Regions from separate parts of the Homo sapiens genome. Here regions 1 and 3 are each linked to region 2. The links come from fine-mapping of genetic effects on gene expression. A gene starts in region 2. Each other region holds a variant in brackets. All regions are shown on one strand. Distances are between the middles of the regions. Region 1 overlaps DLG3 (discs large MAGUK scaffold protein 3). Region 2 holds the start of DLG3 (discs large MAGUK scaffold protein 3). Region 3 overlaps DLG3 (discs large MAGUK scaffold protein 3).

What was found. PIP is the estimated chance that this variant, and not a neighbour inherited with it, causes the effect.
Region 1: its variant is fine-mapped to the expression of DLG3 in cerebellum (GTEx, PIP above 0.99). The same link has a PIP of 0.9 or more in cerebellar hemisphere.
Region 3: its variant is fine-mapped to the expression of DLG3 in whole blood (TOPMed, PIP above 0.99). The same link has a PIP of 0.9 or more in blood mononuclear cells.

Annotation. Positions count from the first base shown.
Region 1 is chrX:70,475,816-70,481,035 of GRCh38, reverse strand. DLG3 (discs large MAGUK scaffold protein 3) reads right to left here. Exons shown (of 19, transcript NM_021120.4): 10 at 1,772-1,886. Among named protein-coding and RNA genes, the nearest start is that of DLG3-AS1, 22 kb to the right of the region's middle. RefSeq lists enhancers at 483-984, 3,043-3,941. The variant T/A (reference allele first, on the strand shown) is at 2,232.
Region 2 is chrX:70,442,539-70,447,758 of GRCh38, reverse strand. It overlaps DLG3 (discs large MAGUK scaffold protein 3), which reads right to left and starts at 2,924. Exons shown (of 19, transcript NM_021120.4): 1 at 2,201-2,924. The coding sequence starts at 2,557. RefSeq lists an enhancer at 2,620-3,406.
Region 3 is chrX:70,468,175-70,473,394 of GRCh38, reverse strand. All of the region lies in intron 9 of DLG3 (discs large MAGUK scaffold protein 3), which reads right to left. Among named protein-coding and RNA genes, the nearest start is that of DLG3-AS1, 15 kb to the right of the region's middle. The variant A/C (reference allele first, on the strand shown) is at 2,415.

The DNA of each region.
Region 1 (5,220 bases), 33 kb before region 2:
AGGATACAGATAATTTATCTAGAGAAGGTTACGGGCAGATTATATAAACTGATTCACTAGACACAGTCATGGTCTCCACCCTCGCCCCAGAGTTAAGCTAAGTGTATCCCTTTAATTCCCTTGCCTGAGCCAGGGAAGAGTGCTCCATATCGGGAGCCAATGTCCCACTCCCCCTGCCCAGGCAGAGAGAACTCTAACACAGGATAGGCGGAGAGGGGAAATCTAAAAATAAAGCTCTCCAAAGAAACTGTCTTGCCTAAAGAGCAGCTTCCCACGCACACTGGAGTGCCACATCTGCGGGGGCTGGAAGCACGGAACGGAACAATCCTGACCAAGTCATATAACCATTACCTATTTTGGGGGGTCGACAGTGCATTTCTGATTTCACCCATCAGCACCCCAGTATCCAGGCTGCAGACTGGGAGCAAGGGCTTTAGTGACAGAAAACAAAACTTTCCTTTCCGGGGAATTGGAAAAATGACCAGTGACTAGTCCCGCCTTCCTACCATTCTCCCTTCACAGCGGGAGGTAAGCATAGCACATGCTTTCAACACACAAGGGGTGGAGTTGAGGGTTCACATTAGGAAAGATTGTGAAGGGTTCTAGTGGGCTTCAGGCTCAGAGATGGGCTCCTTTAGCTCCACTCCCTGCGGTAGAGTCAGGGACCACCAACTGGGGAAAAAGAAAAGCAAGCACCATGAGAAAAACTGCAATTAGCGTTGACATCCCTTCACTATTGTCCTCTCACACCCCAAGGACAGAGCAGTTGTCACGTTGCCAAGCAACTAGCAAGTGCAACTTCCCAGCCAGGTATCAGAGGCCACTAGAAAAAGTTCAGCCCAAGAGTTTGATATGACCCCACACCTAAGCATTAAACACAATACTGTAGCAACTTCTGGCTCAGGAGAGTAATCCCCACCACCTTTCTCTAAGGGCTTTAACCTTGGAGGATACAATGTACTTGGCACCAGATTTTGGAGTTTTGCCAAGAAGCCAAAGCAGGAAGAAGGAAGCTATCCCTAATTCTATGAGGAGTCCACAGTATTCACTTGGCACTCCAACTCCCCAGGAGATTTGTACTTTGACCTGACAAAGTATTAAGCTATGCCTCAAGGGTCAGAGAAGCTCAACCTTGGAAATATCTTGGAATAGCTTTCAGCAGCAATATACTCCATGCTACCTATCTGTTCCCTCCACCCCCTCCCTCTTCCTAGGGCACATACACTATACATCCCATGATTCATAGATACAGCAGACCAGTGCAGCGGGTGGTGAGGGGGGAATGGAATCACAATAAAACATCCAGAATGCAGCAACCTGTCAGTTCTTTGGTCTCTTAAAAGAGATCCTGTACCAGAACACTGCGATAGTTGCTATGCTCAGATACAAATCCTGATGTCTATTATGCATACATGGAAGGGGATGGGGGGGTGGCAAGTTTCCCCTCAAAGCACAGATTGCAAGCAAAGTACTTTGAACATTTGACTGATATTTGAATGCTGACTAGCAACAATCACCCAACAGTCTTTTACAATTAGAGCAAACTGAAATTTTCCCATACTGAGTCATTCATGAGCTAAAAGGAAGAAGCCAGCTCACAAAAGGGAGGAGACACTGACCATAAAATACACAACCTAAGCATACAGTGAGAAGCGTTATTTTAGAACTGGGAGTACATACTCCCTAGCCCACTAGTTAAATAAGAAGGGCTGGGTTGGCATGGAGCTCTCCTCGTCCAGCACAAGGGCTAGTGCTCTGAAGGGCAACTTACCTGACATACAAGGACCTCTTTTCACTTGTTCGGAGGGACCCAGACCCAGAGCTCATGCTGCTGTTCATCATTTGTTCTCGTAAGTCATGTATCTTCGATTCAAAGCGACTGTATTCTGTCACGGAAACAAGGGAAAAGATGGGAAAAGAATGAACTCAAGGAGCGCCTCTGAGCTTGCATGCCAGCAGCCAAAAAGCCAGAAGGCCCCTTGGCTTAAAAGCAGCCAGAGCCAGCCCACTCAGTCTTTGCTTTGATAAGCAAAGTCCCTCCTCCTAAGCACAGAAAGACAGACTTCCCTTCAACCCCAGACTAACAGAAGGAAAGAATGCACCTGAAAAGGGAGTAGCATTTGGGCAGGTCAAATGCACAAAGCTCTTATCTGCCTCAAAATGTCACTGATCCTTTATAAAAATAACAACTGGAAAGAGGTTCCAGTGCAACCTTTATAAATCTTTAGAGC[T/A]GACACTAAGGCCCAAGGAGAGCAGATGGGAAAGGAGACTTTCCCAAAAAGCGGATTGCAGAGAACAGATGGCCCTGAGACGCAGAGCGGAGGGGCTGGAAAGGACCTGAGGTCAATTATATCATTGTTAGGCAAGAAGACAATTTTTTCAGGATGACTTTTTGGCTGGGGTGAAGGGGGGTGATATTGGAACCCAGTACAGAGGTAAAAACAAACAAACCTCACAACCGTAACAACCATATGAGGAGAATTAAAGCTCTCCTGAGTTATTTCCCTTTTAACCAATAGCCTCTTTGGCTTCAGTAGCATACATTAAAACATAAATTCTCCCAAACCGAGAAGTCGGCTGACACCTCTCACCTCCAAAATCATCCAGTCAGTGAGGTCATAAGTCCATCCCTAACCTTATAGCCCATTGAGACCATCACAACAGCTGGAAACAGCCTTATCACTCTGGAAATGTAATACAGGTTTATGCCGAATTTAAGAAAACCTGATACAAGAAAATTAACTCTAGCTGTACAATTATTATAAAAGGCTTTTTATAGGGCTGCTTTGCTGTGACATTCTCCTAGGACATTTAAAATACAATATTCACACTTACCAAACACACAATTACACATTTTCCAGGCCTATAATTGCCGCATAAAATGGGGTATATCTAAGGCCACAGGCCGTGGAAATGCTAGAAAACAGGCACACTTCACTATGACAAGCTGACTTTGAAGCGAGTCAAAATTTATACTAGGGGTTGAAGGTTGGGAAACTGCTTTAAAAAACAAACACACTTCCAGGGGAAAAAATTCCACAAAAGCAATTTCGTGCACCATAGAGGGCTGGCAAGAAGCATCCCCACCTAGTCCGTATGACTCTACAGGAGAAAACAAAACACCTGTTCCAGCACCTGACACTCCCCTTCCCTCTGCAAAGCAACCAGACTGACCTTCAACTGGGTGTAAGGGGAATTGCTAAAGCCTAAAGGGGAAGGAATGGAGTGAGGCAAATAACCTCCTCTCAACAAAGTTTCTTTTGTTCACTGTGATATCAGTTTAACCAACGGGTTAAATTCGTGTGCTCTTTCATTCATCACACGCCGGTGTTATGGTGATTTGTCCTCATTACCTACTCCTGTTCCTGAAATCCTGGAGGAAGCAGTTAAGTCACTGACTCACCCATTAAACGTTGCGGGGGGTGGGGTGGCGGAGGGTAGAGAGACAACAGCTGGACAATGTTCCTGTTCTGAGGGTTACACGGCAAGCCATCAATATCAATGAGGTGCCCCAACCTAAGCCCTGGACTGTCCTAGAGCATAACAGCAGGCCAGTCTACCTCTGGAGACCGCCTGGGTGCTGGCCCCACCCCAGGGCTTGGCCCTCTACACTGGGTGGGGATTGTTTCTCATTTGTTCCTTTCTGGCCCTCCTCTGAGCTCACCGGCTATGGGCAGAACCGTGTGAGACAAAGATTTCTGACCAGGCAGCCCTTTCTTAGGGGAAGATAAGTCAAAGAGAGAAAGAACTATGCATTGAACTGTGAACAAAAAAGTACACCCAATCTATCTTTAAGCCATGTTTTCCCCTTCTTGAAACTTGTTTATATATTCCCTTCTTTGGAATCGACTTGCCCGCTGAACTCCAACTTAGCAGCAGGTCATGGCAGTTGCTTAGTAACTACATTTCTTTAAAAATCCTTTAAAAAACAACCACGAAACCACCATTTCCTCAAAGCTCCTAATCCAAGGCTGATAATTCTGGGCCAGAGGGCCCACTTAAAATAGACTACAGAAAGAGAACAAAGCTATTGCTCTAAGGCATACGCTTTTTGTTTTTACATGTGCTGCTAAAATTTCAAGTTTATTAAATTGTGTTTTATTCACTTTTTTTTCCATTTGGATGATTCCCTTAGAGTTCCAGCTGCCCATCAGTCTCTGGCTTTTATTTGTAGATTTATCTAAAGTCTACTAGGCAGAGCAGCCTTTGAATAAATGATTGTTGGGTAAATGAGGAGCAAATTAGAAAACTGTGTCCAAGTTGACACTTCTATTCTTAAACTAATAAACTTAATGGTTTATTTAACTGATGGCTGCCAGCTTCACTGAGGGCTTAGAAAGGTGGTTAAGAAGCATTCACATTTACTTTTGTTCCCAAGGTTAATTGTTGGGAGCAATTGGGGTTTATTATTTTTAAACACCCTTTTGAGATGTTAACAACCCACAATAGGCGGCTGATTAACAACTTTTTACAACAAAGAAAAATCATTCTAACAAAAAACTGTTTAGAATAGACTTAGATACTACCTCATCTTAAATATTAGAGGTATCATTTTCCCAGGACAAAAGCTTCCCTTAAAAAGCATCTCAATTCTAAGACTTCAGGACTCGCCAAGCTCCCTCCTTCCCTCTGATTTGTCACTAACACAGCCATCGCAGCCAATGCTGGAGGACATCTCCTAGGCCAAAGTCACCGCCTAGGAAGCCCACCTGACCAGCCTCTAACCCAGAGGGCCCACTTCAAAGAAGCAACACTAAAATCTCAAGTCTACTAAACTGCTTTGTTTTTTCCCATTCAGATGAACCCAACTGTTTGTGACCCACAAAGATATCCAGTCATCGCCCTCTTTCCTTTTTCCCAGTTGCTAATCACAGAGAAACAAGTGGGAGGGGGCACAATCAGAAGTCAGTACCGAAGAAGGGTTTTGCCCCAGTCACTGACAAGTTGGGGTGCCTCTAAAAGATCAGGATTTGGCACCCCATCCCAGATACACAGAATCAGAATCTACTGAGCAGGGGCCCAGGAATCTGCATTTTAACAAGCATCAGTGTGATTCTGATAAAGTTTGGAGCTGCTGGTCTTAACTTACAGAATTGGATCCTGCAGTGTCTCTGAAAAGAAAGGTGGGGCCAGAGAGTGGATAAGCTCTCAAAAATAAAACTTGGTAATACAATTGCAAATCCTTCAGGAAAGGAAAGCCCTAAAGATGCCACAGTCTTA
Region 2 (5,220 bases):
CTCCCACTTTCACCTCCAAGAATGGAGAAGCCCTCTTGCCTGTCTCCCCAGGTACCCTGGCACCCCTCCCCCACCTTTCTCTGGCTATGTTGTCCCTTCCCTGACCTCTAGCCTCCTCCTCAGAAGTGGGGAGCTGGAAACCAGGGTGGGGGCTCCTCCACATGTCCTGCTGTGCTTCCCCCGTCCCACCTCCACCCCACACAGCTTTGGCTTCAAGAAGCAGAGAGGAGGAGAGGGAGAGAGGACTAGCTCATCATGCCTCCACCATTTCTGGGCTGGCTCTGCAGCTGTGGGAGTTGGTGGGAGGACTCCAGCTACAGCCTTACCCTGGTCTGTGACCCCAGGAAGAAGAACTGAAGGCTCCTTAGAGACCCGAAACCAACACAGCTGCCTTAAGTACCATGCAACAGACACATAAGCAAAGGGACACCCATGTGGCTCTTGTGTGCATTTGGTGTACCATGTGTGCCCACATGTGACAAGCCATGCCTCAAGCCCAGCCCCAGTGGTACCCAGAGGCTTCCCGTTCCCAGTGGTCCACGCTCTAGCCCCCACCCCTACTCAAGGACCTTGTTCTCAGGGCCAGGAGCCATCCAGGGATCAGCCCTGGCAAAGAAACCTTGGCCAACTGGCCCAGCCTGGGATTGCCACCTGTCTCCCAGCCGGGCAGGACAAGCATAAGAGGGTGTTTGCGAGAGAAAGGCCTCCAGGACAGAGAGGGGGCAAAGGAGAGAGAGGGACTCGCTGGAAAGGGCAAGAGGCCAAGGCAAGGGATGTGGGAAAGCAGTAAGTGTGGACAGACAGAAGGCCAGAACTGAGGGCTCTTCTCCCCAGGAAGTCCCCACCTTTGCCTCTGAGTGAGAGCACATCCTATCCCCAGAGGACAGAGGCAGCCAGAACGGTCACCAGCTTGGGGAAGTCATCACCTGCCCTCGACAGCAAAGCCTCCTCTTCCTCTCTCCCCACCCTAGGAGCTGCAGAGCCGGATAACCAGACAGGCCCTCCGCCTTGCGTGCCAGGGACCTGGCTCTGCCAGCCCAGCCTCCATTTTGCTGCTTCTCCCACAGATGCTCCTTCCATTTTCTAAGCTGGCAGTTTAGGCTGGGAGTGGAAGCCGGAGTTGTGCCCAGCACCCAGGGGCTCCCAAGCTGTGCCAAGTCAGGGCTGGGGGGCTAAGCCCTCTCACATCTGGAGGTACCCAAGGGGGACATGCCCCACTGGGGCCAGTCTCTGCACCAGGGCAGCTGCCCCTTGCCGGCTCCAGGCACCATGCCTGCTCTAGAGCGAGGAGGCTTGCTTCAGTTCCTTCAAATCTCCCCCCGCCCCCCGCCACCCCACCCCGGCACACACACTACAGAGCTGCTTGGACAAAAGAGTCCGTCCTTCTCAGCAGCCTCTCAGCCTTGCTTGGGACATGTCTCTCGCCTCCTTCCTCTCCCCTCCCTTGCCTGTCAAGCGCCTCTCACCAGAGACAACACATACAAACACACACTCACACACACACACCAGGCACACGCGTGCACACTCTTGCAGCCACATGCTCACACACATATACATGTAGCCACACACACAAACACAGCCATCCCTGCAGCCTCCTCTACAGAGACCTCTCCACATTCAGAGTGACATCTCCACACATCCATGTGCACATTCACACACAAAGGGACTGGGACGGAGAGGGACTCATGGCATCAAGGGATGAAGCTCAGCGAGCCGGGCACATGGGCTCCTCCACACGGATTCACGGCAGCTCCATTGCCTTCCTCCACACACCCCAACATACATACACACACATATGTCCCCCCTACGCAGAGCACCATGCCCCCTCCCCTCCCCTCCGGTGGAGACACACACCACACACAGCCCCCGCAGAACCTCCCGCCCCCTGCCAGACACAGAGACATTGCCAAACCCCCACACTGAGACAAACCCAATTCCCCCACACAGGAAAATGTGCCCCTCCGCCATGCCCTTACCCCCTGACACACGGCTCCTCCCAGTCTTCTAATGGAGACCCCCAAACAGACACACACAGGGAACCACACATTTCCCACCGCCTCTCTTTGCCCAGCTGCAATGCTAGGGCTCGGGGTCCACAGGCTTGGAGCCCCAGCGACCCCTACTGCATCCCAGGCCTCTAGGCCCCCACTCTCCAGCCCTCCTGGGTTGCCCCACCGCTCCCCCCTCCGCTGGTCCATACCTGCTCATACCAGTCCCGGTTGGTACAGGTGCACTCTGGCCACCAGCTGGGGCCGCTGCCGTTGAGTTTGGGGGTGCTCTTGCCCGGGACTGGCTTAGGAGGCACCGGCCCCACATCCCGGCCGGTGGGGATGAGCTTGGCCTTGGTGCGAGGGGTGGGGGTGGCCCCCGCCTGCGAGGGCAAGGTCTGCGAGCTGTAGCCCCCATAACCCGCGCTGGCGCCGTTGCCCCCACCTGGCCCGTAAGGGTCGGGGACTTGCCAGTCGCCGTAGCCCGGAGGCTCGAGGCGCCGCAGGGCGGCCAGGCGGGTCACCTCATAGCACTCAGGGCACTTACAGCAGTGCTGGTGCTTGTGCATGGCACTGCCCCCCGCGGCTCGGACCCCCCAGCCCACGCCGGATTCCACGCCGCCGCCACCGCCGCCACCACCGCCGCCGCCGCCGCCGGGCTCCCTGGCACACTCACACTGCTCGGACCAAGAAGGGGGGGGCACCCGTGGGGGCGCCCGGGCTGAGCGGGGCCTGGGGCCGGGCGGGCGTCCCGGGGCCTCGGCCCCCACGCTGCCCCGCACCCACGGCTCCCCCTCCAGCACTGGCGGCTCCGTGTCGCCCGTCGTGGCTTCTGGGCCGAGGCCCAGCGGCAAAGAAGAAGCGGGAGCTCAAGCAGAGAATGGGTGCTGTGAGGACCGCTTCTGCTCTGGTCCCCAGGATGGATCTGAGTGGAGTCAAGAGCATCTCTCCCTGGCTCCCTTCTCAGTTGATTCCAGCCAATCAGCGCGCAGAGGCAGGCAGCGGCAGCGGCAGCGGCGGCGGCAGGAATGCTAAACAGCGGCTACTTAAAGGAACAGAGGCAGCGGCGCCCCCAGGCTCAGCCCCAGCTCCCCCAATCTCTAGGGAACTGTTGGCTCTAAGGGCGGGGGCAGAGGACGTGGGCCACCAGAAAGCTCAGGCACCCGATCTTGTGCCCTTATATCGCCAGTTTTAGCCTGTCCTCTGCCCACTCCACCCCACCCCACTTCCAAGAGGGAGTTGCAGGGAGATGTTCAATGGGTCCCCAGGCTTGCTCTGAGCTGGGGCCACCAGAAGTAAAGACGAGGTAGCAGGATGGACAGAAAGGACGTTGGAGCAGGGTGAGGGAGGTGCTTTCTCTTACAGGGGACCAAAGAAGAAGGCAGCATATGAGGCCCGCTGTCCTGTCAATGCCTCCTACACAAGACTATTGTTCTCTCAGTCTCTAGGCCCTGAAATTACTGTGACCTCACACTTGACCTTCTACCATCACCAGTAAAGAACTCAACCCTAGAACAGGGATTAACAGAAAGCTCTAAGTCCTTGTCCCTGGCCCACAAACCCCTATCTCCTCCACTCCACCCCTGCATGGTTATGATGGGGGAAGGAACTTCAGGATATCAAGATGAAAGTCCAGGACAGGTGAAAAGGTAAGAAGGGATTTGAAGAGAGAGAAACCCTTCTATGGGTCTGGAATAGAGCTTAGGAATACTTGTCCAAGGACATCTCCTTACCCTCTCCTGGCTCAGCTTGTCGGGGGAATGGAGGAAGGATGACATACAAGAAAGACTATCTTTTTTGCAGTTCTTGTTTTGTTTTTAGCTACCAATTATTGGGTCTTTACAAAGTCCTAAGTGCATAACACGCAAACCCAAATCCTACCAAGCTGATGCTATTATTATCTTCATTTTACCAATGAGAAATTGAGGCTCAAAGATGTTAACACAGCTAGGTAACACAGCTGGAAGTGACAGAATCAGGATGCAAATCCTGATTATTTGACTCCAGAGTCCACGCTGTGAACCACTCTAGTACGACAGGTCTATTCTAAGTTCTCCTGCAGAATTTACATCTCAGTTCAATTCAGCAAATATTCATTGAGCACCTGCTCTGTGCAAGACCTTGACCTAGGTATTAGGGATACAGAGGTTCTTTTTTTTTTTTTTTTTTTTTTTTGAGATGGATTCTCATTCTGTCACCCAGGCTGGAGTGCAGTGGCGTGATCTCAGCTCACTGCAACCTCAGCTTCCCAGGTTCAAACGATTCTCCTGCCTCTCAGTCTCCCTAGTAGCTAGGACTACAGGCTCCTGCCACCACGCCCGGCTAATTTTTGTATTTTCTTAGTAGAGATGGGGTTTCATCACGTTGGCCAGGCTGGTCTCGAACTCCCGACGTCAAGTGATCCACCCACCTTGGCCTCCCAAAGTGCTGGGATTGCAGGTGTGATCCACTGTGCCCGGCCCTCAGAGATTCATTCTTAATTCAACAAATATGCGTGGAACACTTGCTGTGTGCCAGACACTGTTGTAGGATTTGGGGATATAGCAGGAAACAAAATAAAACAGAACAAACAGAACAAATCCCTGCCCTTGGGGAGCTTACCTCCTAGTGAGAGGACACAGACAAAAATAAACACAATAAATAAGTGAATTATGTAGTACAGTAGGTCCTCATTTAACATCATTGGTAGGTCCTTGGCAACTGGGACTAAGTGAAACAACGTATAACAAAACCAATTTTACCACAGGCTAATTAATATAAACAAGAGCTAAGTTCCTACAGCATATTTCTGGTCACAAAACATCACCCAGCTTCCAAATAAAGACCCAAAACACTTCTGATATTGAACATTGAAATAAATATGAGCTATGCATACATATAGAAAGATTAATGAAAACAAGTAAATAATTACCTAACCTTTGGTGAACCAGTGAGTGACAGCAGTGGAAGTGGTGGTGGGTTGAATCAAGGAATAAATGTATGCAAAGCGAAAATTGTAAGGAGCACCTCCCTACCACCATGCAGTTCAAAAGCAAACAATCACGAATATGGTGAGCTCGATGAGCACTTTCTTACCTCATAGTTTATTGTGCATTTGTATGATTATCAACTACTTGACAAATTTTTATTTTACAGTACTTTGTATCCATCCATCCATCCATCCATCCATCCATTCATTCATTTTTCAATCTGCTTATTTCAGTTCAGGGTCAAGGGTGGCCACAGCCTATCA
Region 3 (5,220 bases), 26 kb before region 2:
TTCAACAAAGGTTTCCCTGAGGAAGTGACATTTAAGCTGAGTCCAGGGAAAGGGCGCTGGTGAAGAAAGCATTCCAGACAGAAGGAACAGCATTATGTAAGGGTACAAAATGTATGGAACACAGGAAAGCAAGGGGATACTGGCAGGAGATCAGACTAAGAGGTAAGCAGGGGTCAGATCATACAAGGCCTTGTAAACTATGGTAAGGTTATTTGCTTTTTTTTTTTTTTTTTTTTTGAGACGGAGTTTCGCTCTTGTCACCCAGGCTGGAGTGCAATGGCATGATCTCAGCTCACTGCAACCTCCACCTCCTAGGTTCAAGCGATTCTCCTGCCTCAGCCTCCTGAGTAGCTGGGATTACAGGCGCCTGCCACCACTCCCAGCTAATATTTGTATTTTTAGTAGAGACAGGGTTTCACCATGTTGGCCAAGCTGGTCTTGAACTCTTGACCTCAGGTGATCTGCCCACCTCGGCCTCCCAAAGTGCTGGGATTGCAGGTGTGAGCCACTGCGCCCGGACAGGTTATTTGCTTTTATCCTAAGATAAATTCTTTCTCAATGGAAAGAAGCCATTGAATGATTTTAAGGAACGGAAGGACATGATCAGATATGTGTGTCACTTTGGCTACTGTGGAGAGAATAAGTGAAGTGTCTTATATCTACATTTAAGTTTCTTGACAGACGAAGCACATGCTTTCTATGTTTGTGTATTCTCCACAGCCCCTAGTATAAGAAGCCCCTGCTCTTACAGCATCCAAACCAGCTAGCCCTTCAGCCTCTGCTCAAACATGTCCAATACTGGGAAGCTCTCTAATTCTTTTTTTTTCTTTTTCTTTTCTGAGACAGGAGTCTCGTTCTGTCACCCAGGCTGGAGTGCAGTGGTGTGATCTCGGCTCACTGCAAGCTCCGCCTCCCAGGTTCAAGGAATTCTTGTGCCTCAGCATCCGGAGTAGCTGGGATTACAGGTGCCCGCCACCACATCCAACTAATTTTTTTGTATTTTTAGTAGAGACGGGGTTTCACCATGTTGGCCAGGCTAGTCTCAAACTCCTGGCCTCAAGTGATCCACCCACCTCGGCCTCCCAAAGTGTTGGGATTATAGGCGTGAGCCACTGCACCCAGCCGAGAAAATTTTTTGGTTTAGCGCCATCCCTTCTGCCAGCTGGTCCTAATTTTCATGTCTAAAACAGCATAAAACATGATGGGTTCTTTCCTTCAAAACAGTGTGAAGGAATAGTTTAAAGAAGGTCAAAGAGTTGGAAAAGACTGGAACAAGACTACTGAATAAAATGGGAGTAGATGGCAGAGTGCAAACAGGGGAAGGGGAAGTAATGGTAGGTTGCAGGCCAGATTATAAGTGCTTGAGATAGCACTTCTCTTACTAGGCAATGGGAACTGCGTTTAAGTGTTTAAACAGGAAAGTAACACAATTAGAACTAGGTTTGAGGGAAAATTATTCTGGGAGTGTAAGACAGAATTGGAGGACAGAGAGAGAGAGATAACAGAGACCGGGAAGCTGCTCTACTACTACAGACAATAATTATAAAGGCCTGACATAGTATAAGGGCAATGAAGACAGAAAGAAGAGACAGGAATCAAGAAATATGTTGGATCCTTCAAAAGTGGAGAAAGACAAAAAAGAAATATATTGGGGCTTGAAGGGAGAAAATTTGACATCTGATTGGATGTAGAGTGAGAAAGGATCAAAGGCAAAGAATCTGAGTTTTTTCCTTGGAGACATGGAAAAGGTGGGATAATATCAGCCATAATGAAGAATGATCTCAAGAATGTCCTCAAAAAGTTATGTCTTAGCCGAGATGGGCGGATCACGAGGTCAGGAGATTGAGATCATCCTGGCTAACACAGTGAAACCCCGTCTCTACTGAAAATACAAAAAATTAGCCGGGCGTGGTGGCGGGCGCCTGTAGTCCCAGCTTCTCAGGAGGCTGAGGCAGGAGAACGGTGTGAACCCAGGAGGCGGAGCTTGCAGTGAGCCGAGATCGCACCACTGCACTCCAGCCTGTGCAACAGAGGGAGACTCCGTCTCAAAAAAAAAAAAAAAAGTTATGTCTTCTCCAGGCTAAATGTTGTTATTTCCTTAACCATTCTTCATCCAACATAGTTTCCTAACCCTCCACTACCTCACCCTTTTAAAATCTAGTGCTCAGAATTAGTGGTGATGTCATTTACTAAAATATAAGCTCCTTGATGTGGTTTTTGCTTCCTTCTCAAGGTTTAGTGTGGCGATCTGCACCCCTGTTGAGTCAACATTTATTGAATGTGCCAACTGGATATAGAGGTCTGACAGGACAAACCTGGACTCTGTGATTCTCAAATTTTGGCTCCTCAGGAACAAATGTAAAAAAAAAAAGGAATACAAACTTTCTCCTTTCACCCACCCAAACATGCTAAAA[A/C]CTGACCAACAAAACCACGAACCACTTCTGCAAAACACTAACATGTCAGAGGTTTCAAGACATAGTTAACAGCCCAATAAGGCATCAAAGGGGACTGAAACTACAAGTTCCCTATTGCGAACTGGACACACACCCAGGCTTCCAAGTCCGTCTCTCCTCTAAGCCTCTGCTTCCAAATCCATCTACCTGCCTAATGACAGGAAAATTGTCAAAAATTAAAGATGACATTTTTTATTAATTTGGAAAGCTGAGAGGTGCTCAGTTTCTCAACCTGTATTGTTTATTTGGTTCTATTTGATTATAGGCAGGAAAATATTGTAGAGACAGGAAACAAGTGGTAGCAACAGACGATATTTATTCTGCATATAGTACAGACTACCAATGACTCGAATGAAGATATAAAAGGGAAAAGCTACAAAATAACATCCTGCCTATCAAATTTAGAAATGACGCTGGGTGCAGTGGCTCACTCCTATAATTCCAGCAATTTGGGAGGCCGAGGTGGGCGGACCACTGGAGATGAGGAGTTTGAGACCAGCCTGGCCAACATGGTGAAACCCTGTCTCTACTAAAAATACAAAAATTAGCCAGGCGTGGTGGTGCACACCTATAATCTCTGCTACTCAGGAGGCTGAGGCACGAGAATCGCTTGAACCCAGGAGGCAGAGAGGTTGCAGTGAGCTGAGATCACACCACTGCACTCCAGCCTGGGCAACAGAGCAAGACTCCATCTCAAAAAAAAAAAATTAGAAATGACGATGACACTGGGGAAGCAACTGGATGACAGACTTCAAACACACAGATTATGATAGGTAGAAAGAATCAGAAGATGCAAATAAAAATAAAGTGAAATAGAGAACTGTATCTTCTTGACCTTGAGTTCCCACACAAATATTGAGTAGGGAAGACATGGCTGAATAATGGCTCGTGTTTTAGTTGCCTATAACCTCAAAATAAATCAACTGCTGCCCAAAAAGTTCTTTCCATCTTATGGAAGTGCAGACATTCAAATCTCAAACTCATACAGCCCTCATTTGCCATTGCTGAGCTGCCCTGAGGCTCAAAGAAATAAGTCACCAATTGTGAAAAATAACAGAACTCTGGTGGAAGTGAAGTTACAGCCTCAGAGAGAGTCACAGAATTTGAGGAGTATGAATTGTGGTTTAGGTTCCTATATTTGCCTTTGGAGTATAAACCTTCACACTATGGTTCATATTTTAAAAAGAAATGGATGGGCTGGCGCGGTGGCTCACGCCTGTAATCCCAGCACTTTGGGAGGCTGAGCCAGGTGGATTGCTTGAGGTCAGGAGTTCGAGACCAGCCTGGCCAACATGGTGAAACCCCATCTCTACTAAAAAAAAATACAAAAAATTAGCCAGGCATAGTGGTGGGCTCCTGTAATGCCAGCTACTCAGGAGGCTGAGACATGAGAATCACTTGAACCTGGGAGGGGGAGGTTGCAGTGAGCCGAGACTACACCACTGCACTCCATCCTGGGTGACAGAGTGAGACACCATCTTAAAAAAAAAAAAAAGAAAGAAATGGATGGAGGTGAAAGTAAAATAAGCCCATTAAGAAGATACTTGTTAGTATGGAGTAAGTATATGAATTGCCAAATATCAGAACATTTCTAGGAATCACAAACTTGTCTTTATAAAATAGTTATGGGGCCAGATGCAGTGGCTCACACTTGTAATCATAACATTTTGGGAGGCCAAGGTGTGAGGATTGCTTGAGGCCAGGATTTTGAGGCCAACCTGCACAACATATTGAGACCCTGTCTTTGCAAAAAAAATAAGAGAATTAGTCAGGCGTGGTGGTGTACGCCTGTAGTCCCAACTACTCAGGAGGCTGAAGCAGGAGGATCGCTTGAGCCCAGGGGTTCAAGGCTACAGGGAGCTATGATCACACCACTGCACTCCAGCCTGGGTGTCAGAGTAACACCTTGTCTGAAAATAATAATAATGAAGCCTATTACTTGGGTTAGTTTCTAATGATGGGTCCATTGTTTAGAGGTGTTGTCTAACACCTCTAAAACTAGATAATTTCTAAGATCCCTTCTAATTATGACATCATTATGATTTTATGACCAAATCAATGAGGTCCATACGGAATCAAAGTTAGAACTAGTCTGATTTAATTTTTAAATATAATTTAGAGAGGGAAATCTTCAAATCTGCAAATAATTCTAAACTCTTTGGGTAAAAACAATACCAAATCAATAAACATAAATTACCAAAAATATTTCTCAAGGCTATGTGAGAGGGCAGAAATATGGCAAATAGGCTTCAATGGGCAAATATTGCTTGAGGAAAAATAATTTCAGTTCTACTTTTAGAATAATTTTGGAACTATGACTAACCCAGAAAGCTGGGTGTCCTTATTCTGGTCCCTGCACTGTCACTGTGTATGCTTCCTCGGCCATACACACACATAGCCAGGGTTCTGGATACCATCCTGAAGGATACTGAGAAGAAAACAGAAAACAAAACATGCCGGATCAGCATGCCATAAAAATTTCCAGTTTATCCCTATTGACTGGATGTTTTTGTCCCCCAAAGAGCTTAGTGAGGATGCAAGAAGAGCTACTGAGTGAAAATGCTATACTAGGCCAGGTGCCGCGTGGCTCACTCCTGTAATCCCAGCACTTTGGGAGGCCGAAGCGGGCGGATCACCGGAGGTCAGGAGTTTGAGACCAGTCTGGCCAACATGGTGAAAACCCATCTCTACTAGAAATACAAAAATTAGTTGGGCATGGTGGCGGGCACCTGTAATCCCAGCTACTCAGGAGGCTGAAGCACAAGAA